3 separate regions of the Homo sapiens genome follow, and regions 2 and 3 are each linked to region 1. Evidence: fine-mapped expression QTL. A gene starts in region 1. Each other region holds a variant in brackets. All regions are shown on one strand. Distances are from middle to middle. Region 1 holds the start of PGM5 (phosphoglucomutase 5). Region 2 overlaps TMEM252-DT (TMEM252 divergent transcript). Region 3 overlaps PGM5 (phosphoglucomutase 5).

Region 1 (4,244 bases):
CAGAAGACTACCGAGGTCGTGGGAGAAGGGAGAGAAAACAAGGATGAAAACCGAAAGGGGAAGAGGCATGAAATGTTGTCAAATGCCAAAAGGCATTTGGAGAGAAGTTGGGAATTGCATTAAGAAAACCACTGCAAATCTCATTTCAGACCATTTAGAGATATGCCCCCTGGGAACTGCGAGCTCAGGCTGTTTAGCATCAAACAAATGGATCCACTCCATCCCTACCCTAATTAAATAAATCATTCAGTAATTCCACTGGGTTAAAGAACCAAAATAATAAAAACCTTCAGGGCCTACTCTTGCCAAATATGTCAGGGATCGTGTGTGTGTGTGTGTGTGTGTGTGTGTGTGTGTGTGTGTGTGTGTGTGTGTTCTGAGACACCACTACTGTTAAATAGGCAGAGCTAAGACTTAGGGGACTGGCAGATTATTGCAAAAAGGGCACGGGGCAGAGGGACTATGTTGTGAGCCTGCGAAAGAAGTTTGTGTGGGGACTGTGGGCAGTGAATGCGTTGGGAACAATATGGAAAACTGGGAGCTGCCTTGGAATCTACAGGGCCGGGTAAGAGAATGTCCGAAAGAAAAATGAGCAGGTGCGGGATGTGCGCAGAGTCGGAGAAGAGTCCAGGGCGCCCGGAGTGGCTCCAGGAACGACGGAAACCCCTCAAGGCTTTTGGGGGCGGTGGGTACTAATAGAACCCAGTGTCCGGGGTGCACCGGGGAGGCTGCGAGCGCGGCGGGAGTGGGGCGCTGGAGGGTGAGGACGCGGGAGTGAGGTAGCAAAGCCGGGGCCGGGCAGGGGCCTCCCAACTGGGCCCGGAGGCAGCAGGGGGACAAGGGCTAGGAGAGGGCATGGCGGCGGCGCGGCGGGAAGCGAGGGGCATCCGGACACTCACCCCGTTGGCCGCGGCCATCTGCACCACGATCTCGATGGCCGTCCTGCTAAAGTACCTGCCGTCGCTGCCCACCACCATGGTGCAGCCCTGACGGTCGCGCAGGTCGATGGACGACAGCACGCTCTGGATAAAGTTGGGCAGGTAGTTGCGCTGGCCCTCGAAGAGGCCGGTGGGTCGCCGCAGACCCCCGCCGCCGGCCGGCCGCTGGTCCTCGTAGGGCGCGGTGGGCACTGTCAGCACCGGGATGGGGCTCCCCTCCATGGCGCCTCCTGGCCGGTCCTGCTGCGGCTCCCGGAGCCGGAGGGAATCTGCAGCCTGCCGGGGGCCTCCACCAGCCTGGCTGCGCGCCGGGACTCCGCCTCGCGCCCGGGCCCCCTCTCCAGCAGGTCGGCGCCCTGCGCCCTGCACCCGCCCGCCTGGGGACCGCCCGCCCCTCCTCTCCGCGCGGCCGCTCGGCTGACTCTCTCGGCAGAGATTGCTTCTGCCTTCCTGTAAAGTTTTCTCCCACCCACCTTCTCCGCTGCCAGACCGCCCGAGCTGCCCTCAGTTTCTCCCCAAGTTGGACTCACTTTCGGGGTGTCCCAAAAGCCTGATTCCAGGGCCTGCTAGCCCGACCCCGGTGACGCCTCCACCCGCGCCTGGCCCCAGCCTTCACCCGCGATCGCCGCCCTCCGGGGCACACCCTCCGCCAGAAAACAGCCGGCGGGCGGCGAGACTTTGGGCAGAGTCCGGGTTCCTCTCCGGCGCCCGGCCCGTCTCCCTGTCTCCCTGGGAGTGCGCAGCCTACACACACCAGTTTCTCTTTAGAACAAGGACGGGGAGGGATTTGGGAGGGGGCTGAAACCTTTTGCCATCAGCGAACAGCCTCAGCCAAAAATAACCCTGGAAAGGCGAGCTAAGAATGGTTATCTCCTGCCAGCGCTGAAATCGGAGGCTGGGCGCTGCGTGTGGGGTGTGTGTGTGTGTGTGTGTGTGTGTGTGTACCCTCCCACCCCGACCATTTGTTGAAGGGAATCACCACTGTCAGACTTCAATCCAACAGGACCCACTCGAGCCATCCACACTTTCCCCAGCCTCCTCCAAAACAGCACACTTTCCGGTATGGACAATTCTTTTTTTTTTTTTTTTTTTTTTTCACTTGTTTGTTTGTTGTGGTGGTTGCAACAGCAGCAACACAGACGACACATATTTCCCTATTCTTCTCGCCCTTCTCACCCTCCCTACCCAGCTCCTGCCTTAGAAATAGGCTTTCCTACACTGTATCTGTCCACACTGTCTGAACTCTTCCTTGAATTAATCGTTTTCAATAGGAGGGGGCTAAATCCCTTATTAATGCCCTACCAGGAGTGAATGAATAAAGCCAAGTTAAAGGAGACCTGGGTACCAGATACTGTGCTAGGTTCCTTTGCATGTATCCTTTCATTCTGCTGGAGCTAAAGATTTTCTGCCTCCTCTCCATAAAACGCACCCAAACTCCAAAACCAGGAAATTCTCCATAGAAAATAGGAGTGAAGAGAGAAAAGACTAACAGGATAAAACCCAAAGCAGGAAGAAAGTTCTATCTCCCATTTCTCTCAAGGAATTTTTGGACCCACCAAGGCTACTGTCCTGAAATATCCTGCTGCTTCTCCTTCCCCAAATATTGTCCACTTACTGAGAGTAAGGCTGACTTGCCGCAGGCTTATAAAGTGTTTGGTCACAGTAAGACAACTGTGAGTAATAACACACATTGTATACTGTTTTGCAATTGATTAAAGGCTTTGCATCTGTTTTTTCTTTGGAGGCTGAAGAAAAGAAGAATGGTATTCATGCAGTTCCCATTTTACAGATGAAAACAAGAGGACTTTTTCTGTGAAGTCAAGAAAGTGGTTACAATGGTACTTTCAGCCTGTCCGAATTATGTATTGCCCCTCCCCTTTTTATTAATAACATTGAAGTGTGATGGGACAACCACTGAAGCCGTCTGTTGAAACCTGCTGGGACTTTTTAGCCATTCTCTTCAACATAAAGAATGGGTGTTTTTGGAGGGGGTGAGAGGAATGGGGAAATGTTGTCAAAGAGTACAATGTTTTAGTTGAGACAGGAGGAATATATTTTGTTGAGATCTACAGCACAGCATGGTGACTGTAGTTAACAATGAAGTATTGTGTATTTCAAAATTGCTAAGACAATAAATTTCAAATGTTCTCACCACAAAAAAGATAGGTTTTGAGGTGATGAATCTATTAATTCTCTGGATTTAATTATTCCACAATGTATACATATATCATAACATCACATCATACCTCCGTAAATACATACAATTTTAATTTGTCAATTAACATTTTTTTAAAAGAATAGTGTGGCCAGTCGGGGAGGTAGTTTTTTTTTTTCCTCTAGTCTCTACTCAGTCTCCAAGATCCCATTTCCCATAAAGTTCCTGTCACCCAGGTGGAGTGCAGTGGCACAATCATGGCTCACTGCACCCTCTCCCTCTTGGGCTCAAGCGATCCTCCTGCCTACAGGTACATGCCACCACGCCCAGCTAATTTTTGTAGTTTTTGTAGACATGGGGTTTCACCATGTTGCCTAGGCTGGTCTCGAACTCCTCAGCTCAATCAATCTGCCCACTTTAGCCTCCCACAGTGCTGGGATTACAGGTGTGAGCCACCAAGCCCAACCCATAAAGTTCCTAACTTTTTATCTCCCTGGGAGTGCACAGCCTACACACACCAGTTTCTCTTTAGAACATACTTAAGAGTCTTGGCTTAGCATCCAACAGACAGAACTTTAACACTTCTAGGGATCTGTGCACCTGTCTATGGTGTGGGGTTTTTAAGATCTCTTTCTAATGACACTTTTTTTTGCAAAGCAGGACAGTTTCATTCCCAGAAGAGCAGGTATGGTAAATCCTTTGTTCCAGTAACGAAGACAATGATCCAAACCCTAAGCCTCAGAGAAGCCCAGAAACCCTCCAGGCCTCCATCTCTCTGCTCCTAGCACCTGCCTCTCTCTTGACATCAACATCATTCTCCCCTCTCACAGCCCAGCTCCTTCCACAGACCCAGGGATTAGGCACCAGCACCTCAGACTAGATTTTAGAGAATTACCATTCAAGAGGCAATCCTCTTCCCTTGGTTCCAATTTCAAGGTTCTCAAAGACTGGAACAGGGCTAGTTTGAGGCAATGTGCCCTACCACATAGCCAGAAAGAACCTTACAGTGACAAGGAAAACAAGTCTTCCAAAGTAAGGGGGTGCTGATCCCCAGAGGGAGGACAGATGGGCAACCAAACAGTAACCGGGCCACCACGTGCTTCACACTCACTGATCAAGGATTTCTAAAACCATTTGTCTTTTCTCTGAAT
Region 2 (4,244 bases), 220 kb before region 1:
AACCCCAAAGCATTTATTTAAAGGGAGAAATTTGATTTTGTAATTGTAAAGACTAATGAAATTTTACGTGGTTGATGATTTTGTCAGTTACCTCAATGTTTGACAACCTTGTTAAGCAGCTTTCTAGAAAGGATATATTCAGGCTCTCACCCTCTGAAAATTATATTAAACAATTTTGGTGGACATGACTGTTTACATAATCAGTAAGCTTCTCTATAATGACTGTATTTGTATTTCTGTAAGTTTTTTGTGTGAATGTGAGAGCAAGCTTTAGACACTTGCAAAGGGATTAGGCTCACAGAAATGAATCCATTCCAGGCAATAATTTGGAAAGTCATATTTAAATCTTTAATTAGAACACTAAGTCCTAAAACTTAGCTTAGCCTATAGAGTCTCTTTATATGAATTAGTTCAGGCATGGTGAAAAATCTAAGAATGATTCTTTTATGTCATGCTCAACCCCCCAGAAAAACTAAGGTACACTTCCCAGCTTTTCCCAACTTCTCTCCTTTTATGAGAAAATGGCATTAATGTAAAATATTAAATATTAAAATAATAGTATTGTCCTATTGCTCAGAACAATCTTCTCCGAAGTATTCTTTAATAGGACAATGGTTCTCAAATAGGTGAGCTTCAGAATCGCCTGGAGGACTGTTAAAACACAGATTGCTGGATGCCACCCCCTAAAGTTTCTGATTCAGTGCATCTGAGGTGGGACTGAGTAATCTGCATTTCTAACAAGTACCAAGGCAATGCTGGTTCATAGGGAGCACACCTCAAGGATCACTAAAAATTCCGTATGTGTATATATGTATATATTCAGGATGTAATTCCCAAATACGCAAACACACACACACACACACACACACACACACATATGCATGCACACACAGACACACACACACCACAGAAAGAGAGAAAGAGAGAGAGAAAGCAAAGGCAGCAAAATGTTAATAATTGGTGGATTTGGGTAACAGGTATTTGGGAGCTCCTTACTATTGGTGTGAATTTTCTCTAAGTTTGAAATTATTTCAAAATACAGTTTAAAAAAATTATACCTTATGAAGCTAACACTTGGTGTCTAAACAAATAGAAAACCAGTTCGAATAAAGTCTTCTTGGGCATTTGTCTTGAGTTCAAGTCATGCTCACCACTTAACAGCTAACATGGTTTGGCTTTGCGTCCCCACCCAAGTCTCATGTCAAATTGTAATTCCCAGTGTTGGAGGAGGGGCCTGGAGGGAAGTGATTGAATCATGGGGGCGGACTTCCCCACTGCTGCTCTTGTGATAGAGTTCTCAGCATATCTGGTTGTTTGAAAGTGTGTAGCACTGGCCCCCCCACTTCTCTCTCTCTCTCTCTTCTGCTGGCCATGTGAAGATGTGCTTGCTTCCTCTTTACCTTCTGACATGATTGTAAGTTTCCTGAGGCTTCCGCAGAAGCAGAAGCCTGTACAGCCCGCAGAACCTATTAGCTGATTAAACCGCTTTTTTTTTTTTAAGTATCCAGTCTTAGGTATGTCTTTATAGCAGCATGAGAACGGACTAATACAACAGCCAACTGAATTTCTTCTTAACTCATCATCATCAATATAAGACTCCAGAGTGCGAGCACACATATGGATTTCTGAAGCAGGGGCTTGTGTAGTGATCAGAACGGGGCTTTTGGCTTCAGACAGGCCTGGAGGTGATTCCTGAATTTGTCATTTACCAGTTCTGGGAAATTGGGAGTCACTTAAACCAAGGCTGCTGCATTGTGCTCCAGAAGGTTCCATTTACATAGAAAACAAAGTAAATAATGTTCCCTGTAGTTGTACAAGGCCATGACCCTGATTTAAACTTTCTGAACCTCAGTTTTCATATCTGTAGAAAGGGGAGAATAATAACGCTTGGAATGGTTACAGAGATTAAATGACAGTGCTTGTAAAGAGCTTACTTAACACAGTTGGCTGGTCCATAGCAAGTGCTCAAGAAATGGTAGCAGTATTGAGGATGATGACAATGGTTCCTACTGGAAATTATGAATTCTTTTGAAGGAGAACTGGTCTGCATGGTCCTTTCCAGTTCCAGTTCCAA[T/A]GCTGTGATCAGAGATGCTTCTATTTAACAAAGGCAACATGGACTTTTCACCTTTATTATTGTTGTTACTATTATTACTATTTTCTCCGGGGGACCTTGATGAAAAGTTATTACTAATAATACAATAATTCTCGTTATTTAACTTTTGTCAAAGAGACCCATTCATGATTTTTCCACTCTATAAATAAAAATCACATCTTCTTTGAAGTGGGCAACTTTCGTAGTACCATTTCTTGGGGACATCAAGATCCAGTACCTTACTGATATGCCTCAGAGGGTGTTTTCCCTCCAAGGACATATTGCACTGGAGATTTTTAGGATATAAACATTTATCAGTTATCTACCTGGGGAGCAAACAGGTTGTTGTTGGAAAAGTCATGCTAGGCAGAAAATCCAATTGGCTAGATAAAAATATAATCAGAGAAGCAAGAAGTTAAGAGACAGGAGAATGATGTTCCAAGGACTGGGAAGAAGTTCAGAATTCTGTCTCTTGAAGAAATTGTTCAGCACTGTGTCCCTGAGTTGCAGGTGTGCAGTAGCAATTTATTTCCAGCCTAAAGACCACTGAGAGAATAGCAGATTGGGAAGCCAGACCACCTGTCTAGTCCCAGCCACATCTCTGAGTATCTCTGAGGCCTTAGCAAATCACTGAATCTCTTCGTCTACAAAATGAGGGAGTTGGATTAGCTCAGAATCTTATCAAAGTATTGTTAAGCCACGAAGTCTGATACGGTTTGGCTCTGTGTCCCCACCCAAATCTCATCTTGAATTGTAGCTCCCATTAATTCCCACATGTTGTGGGAAGGACCCGGTGGGAGATAACTGAATCATGGGGACAGTTTCCTTCATACTGTTCTTGTGATAGTGAATAAGTCTCACAAGATCTGATGATTTTATAAAAGGTTTCCCCTTTCGCTTGGCTTTCATTCTCTCTCTTGCCTGCCACCATGTAAGACGTGACTTTTCTCCTCTTCGCCTTCCACCATGACTGTGAGGCCTCCCCAGCCACATGGAACTGTGAGTCCATTAAACCTCTTTTTCTTTATAAATTACCCAATCTCAGGTATGTCTTTATCAGCAACATGAGAAGAGACTAATACAGAGTCCTTTGTTAAAATAAATTTTATGAGAATATTCAAAAGAAAATCAAATACACACAAGGGTGCTCAGTGGAAGTTGGGCTGGTGACTCCAGACATTCACTCTACTAACTTCTTACCTCTGGCAGCTGCAGAGGGAAATTGGAGGAAACCCAGGGGCTCCATGGAGCACGGATTCAAAACCACTGAACTGAATGAAGTGCCTTCCAGCTCAAACACTTCATCTCTACCTTTGATGTATTTCCTCAAAGGAATTGTCATATATGGCACTAAGTTCCATAAAGTTTTATTCCTCAGAATCCTTTATAGAGCTCTTTTATCTTCTGACAGCTCTGCATGGAAGCCATTATTAAGCTAACTTTGTTCGTGGGCAAATTTTAAATCTATTTGCCCAAGGCATTTGACAGAGACACAATCAGGGCCAAACTGAAAAGCAGCAAGCTTTGCCTTTGGTACCCAGACAGAAATAAGAGACTACTTTTAACTTTTGTTTCCACTGTCAGTCCTGTAACTCATCATGCAGATTCCATTTGAGTTATCATGGTTTTTTTTTGTTTGTTTTTGGTTTTTGATGTTGTTTAATTCTAGCTTCCACATAACTGAGTTTTCAGAGCTAGAAACCATATATGGTGAACCAGCCCTCATAAATGTTACACAATTTTATGTATTAGCTACACAGAAGTTGCTGAAAAGCCTGAAGGGAAAGCAGATGGTTAAAAAAATACTCTTGTCTTTGTGAATTTGGGGAACTTTGCTATGAGAAATTACAGATTATTATTTTCCTTGTTATACCTTTAGTCAAACAGATGGCATGAGACAGCGAACAGGAATTCTACACAGTTTCCATGGCAATTGTTGGAGAGCCCTGGCCTATTTGTAATGATGTGTAGTGTAGTATCTAGGGCAAAGGTGAAATTGTGGGGTTTCATTCTGCAACACCTACTGATTTTAAGCCATTCAGATGACATTTGTTGGGTTCCCATTGCCTAAAAAGCAATGTCCTAGTTATTGGGGGTCGGGTGGGGAAGAAGATATCAAAGAAACTGAAGCATTGCCTTTTCTTTATAGACA
Region 3 (4,244 bases), 160 kb before region 1:
TCATGTATTGAATTAATCTCTAAACAGTCTATGAGGTAGGTGGTATTATTCTCATTTTACAGATGAGGAAACTGAGGCTTGGACTCATTACATAACTTGTGCAGTCACATGGCAATCAAGTGGCAAAGCTGAGCTCTGAACCTACTCAGTACTGTGATTTTTAACCTCAAAGCTAGGCTGTATCTCACTATCTAGACTGCCCTTATACTGAGGGAAAAGTTTTCATTTTCTGAAAGTTTATAAATATATTTGTCTTAATGCCAAAAGTTTCCCTGTTTCTAGGCACACTATTTGAAAATTACCTTTTTAAGGATTATTAAATATAACAATCACAGGGAAATGCAAACAATTTAACATACTCTAATTATATGTAAAACTGATGCTTGTCCTTCTGAAGACAAAGCCTATTTGAGTTCTAAATGAACCCATCAAGTCGTTCTCCCTTGTTAGCATACTGTCAGCACATATAGCCTACGTCCAGGTTTTTTCTTTAGCAATACCGTTTTATGATATTAAAGGACTTCCCTTTGATTCCTATTCACAGAATTTTTATCATGAAGAGATGATACATTTTATCAAAAGCTTTTTTTGTGTCAATTTTGTTTTCATTTTCGAATTCAGTTGCCCTTATAATACTCTGTATTCTTTCATTCCTCAGCATATAGGTAATTTTTATACGTGTCCCCTGTGGCATGAAAAGAATTTACACGTTGAGTTGATGTTGCGTGGTGTAATATCTATATGTGCCTATTAAGTCAGGTGTGTTAACTAAGTTGTTTAAATATTCTATGTTCTTTACTAATTGTATACTTATTCTAATAATTACTGAGAGGGGTGCTAAAATACTCAAGGGCAACTGTGGATTTATTTTCTTCTTACATTTTCATCTCTCTCTCCCTCTTTTTTTTTTCTTTATAAATTTAAAACTACTGTGTCTTCCTGGGGGATTTAACTCTTTTATCAGTTTGAAGAGTCTCTCTTTATCTTTAGCAATGCTTTTGACCTTAAAGTCTATTTTATCTGAAATAATAGAGCTAGTTTTAGGTTATCATTTGTATATCTTTTTCCGTCTTTTAACTTTCAAATTTTCTGTATTTTTATGTATAAAAGATGTATTTTTTATAACGAGCTTATAGTTGTCTTTTTTTTTTTTTTGAGACAGGGTCTCACTCTGTCACTCAAGCTGGAGCGCAGTGGTATGATCATGGCTGACTGCATCATCAATTTCCCAGGCTTGAGCAATCCTCTCACCTCAGCCTCCCAATTAGCTAGGACTACAAGTGCACACCATCACACCTGGCTAATTTTATTTATTTATTTATTTATTTATTTATTTATTTATTTATTGTAAAGACAAGGTCTCCTTATGTTGCCCAGGCTGGTCTCAAACTCCCAGGCTTAAGCAATCCTACCACCTTGGCCTCTGAAAGTGCTGGGATTACAGGTATGAATCACCATTACATTGTCTTTTTCCTACAGCAGTTAGTTCACTTATATTTAAAGTAATAACCAGTAAATTCAAGTTTAAATCCACCACCTTATGTGCTTTTTACTTGACCTAGCTGTTTTTCTTTTTTTTTTTAATTTTTTTTTATTATACTTTAAGTTTTAGGGTACATGTGCACATTGTGCAGGTTAGTTACATATGTATACATGGATGAAATTGACCTAGCTGTTTTTCTTTCTCAATTTTTTAAAGTTCCTATGTTTTCCTCTCTTAAGAAGTTATGTAATTTCCTTCTATTTTTTTTAATCGTTACCTAGAAACTACAACATGAATCCTTGACCTATCAAAGTCTAGTATTTATCTATACCTTTATTTTCTTCCAATATATTCAAGGATCTTACCTTAACTACAATTATGCTCATGGTGTTTAGTTACTGTGGTTGTATAATTTAATTCTCCATATTAATTAATATACATATTTCAGCAATTATTAATATTTTATACAGCCAATGTTCATTTATACCAACTCCTATTTTTAACATTTCTTTTATTCCTTGCTGCATTTTATTCCAAATATCTATCTGGGATAATTTTCCTTCTTCCTGAAGAATATCCTTGAGAATTTCTTTTTGTGTAGATACTCTCTCAGCTTTTGTTTATCTGAAGATGTGTTTATTTCGCTTTCATTTTAGAAGGAAAGTTTCACTAGATT[AAG/G]AGTTCTAAGCCATCAGTCTCCTTATTTTTAGTGTTGATAAAGAAAAATTAGTTGTCAATCAAACTATTCTTTGCCTTTGATTTTCTGCAATTTTAGCCTGATGTGTCTAGATGTGAATTTATTTTTATATATCCTGCTTGGCTTTCTAGAATCAGTGGGCTGACCTCCTTCATTGGTTCTGGGAAATCTTCACCTATCATTTTTTCCAGTGTTGCCTATACCCAAGTTTCTGTCTCCTCTTTTGAGACTCCAACTAAATTATGTTAGCACTTCTCACTGTATCCTTTGTGTCTCTTACCCTCTATTCTGTATTTTTCCGAATATGATCTTTCATCTTCCAAAGGCAGCAATCTTATATTCTTTGTTCTGCAAATCATAAGGACTAAACTGAAAAATCAGATGCATAGTTTCTTCTGAAATATTTTAAGTTCACTGATATTCTTCAGCTGCTGTTAAATCCATTTATGTTCTTAATTTTGGTTATCTTTCTCAGCTCTTTAATTTCAACATCTTGGTGTATTTTTATAGTTTTCAGTTATTTGCTGATGTTTTTACATTCAGTGCTTTATTTCCATGAACATAGTGAAAATAACTATTTTACAGTGTGTATTGAATAAATTCCAGTATCTATAGATCTTTTTCTGTGGTATGTTGTTTCTGTTGATTCTGGTATGTGTTGCTTTGTGTATCCAAGTGCTTTATAATCTTTTATTGTTTGGTGCCCATTTTGTTTGAAAAATTGCTTATAGAAATAACTGGAGACCTAGAATATTGTTAGTTTCCTTCATTTCCTTTCATGAGACTCCTCAGGGAGCCAGAAGATCAGAGCCATGGATTTATAATCCTCTGGAGTACAGTCTGTATACCACCTTTGGAATGGTCTTCTTCAAGTTTACACCCTAGAGCAGGGATTGTTAAGCCAGGATCTCTGCCTTTGATGTGTACTTAACTAACCATATTTCTTTTGGCCACACGAAAATGCCACACAGGTCTGCCTCTTTGCTGCCTCTTTGGTTAGTCTCCTGGTTAGCAGAGGCAGACTGTAATAGACCAGATCCTCCTCCACCTGGACCTGATGCCGGTCACCTTTACCCTGTGCCAGTCATCAAAAGCACCTCTTCTTTAGTACCTCTCCTAGATGGACAAATTCCCTAGGACAGAAAGAGCTTTGGCTCATTTTCCTGAGTGCCAACCCTTTTCCTGTTCTTGTTACTGTTTTATTAGGTCATTGGTCAACCATGCTTTTAATAAGATGCTTTAATATATTTCTTTCAGCTCTTTACAGAGGGAAGGTTAGTTTGAATCACCTAGTCCACCACTACTAAAAGTTAGAAGTCCTTCATATGGGATTTGTGTTGTTTTGTAATCATTTTCCTGCCAATATTTAAAAATCAAATTTCATTTGAAAGTCCAGATATCTTGCTCCTTTTAAAATCAGAAAACCTGGCAACCTTGAGCTCACATATTAACAATGCAATAATTAAAGACAGCTGAGCATCACCAGAGTGCCCACCATGCTCTATTGTCTTAAATTGGCCCCAATCTAGGACTTACTGCCTGTGTTGGTGGGTGACTGAATTTGCTACCACTGAACAAGCAATAGTACACTAGAGGCAGTGAAATAATTTTAATATTAATAAGTATAAATTTTACCTGGATAGTTACATATCCAGGAATCTGGGGCATTCTAATTTAAATTTTCTCTTTTTCTGAAATAGAGATTTTTGTATTATGAGGGCCTTGAAGACTACTGCGGAGGGCTGGCAGATTTGCGTAAGAGCCCAGCAACCATTTGGGGAGTAAAGGTACTGCAGTCCTCCCCGTCCCCTATTATGCCTATGCCCTGAGATGCAAACTCTCAGCATGGACTCAACTGCTCATGACTACAACACAGAACTAGGCTAGGCGCAGTGGCTCAGGCCTGTAATCCCAGCATTTTGGTAGGCCGAGGCGGGCAGATCACCTGAAGTCGGGAATTTGAGGCCAGTCTGACCAATATGGAGAAACCCCGTCTCTATTTAAAAAAAAAAAAAAAGACAAAAAATTAGCCGGGCGTGGTGGTGCATGCCTGTAGTCCCGGCT

The links. PIP is the estimated chance that this variant, and not a neighbour inherited with it, causes the effect. A credible set is the group of variants that fine-mapping cannot tell apart.
Region 2: its variant is the best candidate, but not a certain one, in a credible set for the expression of PGM5 in whole blood (INTERVAL, PIP 0.73).
Region 3: its variant is the best candidate, but not a certain one, in a credible set for the expression of PGM5 in whole blood (INTERVAL, PIP 0.54).

The regions. Positions count from the first base shown.
Region 1 is chr9:68,354,044-68,358,287 of GRCh38, reverse strand. PGM5 (phosphoglucomutase 5) reads right to left here and starts at 1,677. Exons shown (of 11, transcript NM_021965.4): 1 at 900-1,677. The coding sequence starts at 1,160. It overlaps PGM5-AS1 (PGM5 antisense RNA 1), which reads left to right and starts at 422. Exons shown (of 3, transcript NR_121192.1): 1 at 422-565; 2 at 1,942-1,998; 3 at 2,683-3,124.
Region 2 is chr9:68,569,483-68,573,726 of GRCh38, reverse strand. The region is part of intron 2 of TMEM252-DT (TMEM252 divergent transcript); the gene reads right to left. Among named protein-coding and RNA genes, the nearest start is that of LINC01506, 25 kb to the right of the region's middle. The variant T/A (reference allele first, on the strand shown) is at 2,075.
Region 3 is chr9:68,517,001-68,521,244 of GRCh38, reverse strand. The region is part of intron 10 of PGM5 (phosphoglucomutase 5); the gene reads right to left. Among named protein-coding and RNA genes, the nearest start is that of TMEM252, 22 kb to the left of the region's middle. The variant AAG/G (reference allele first, on the strand shown) is at 2,160.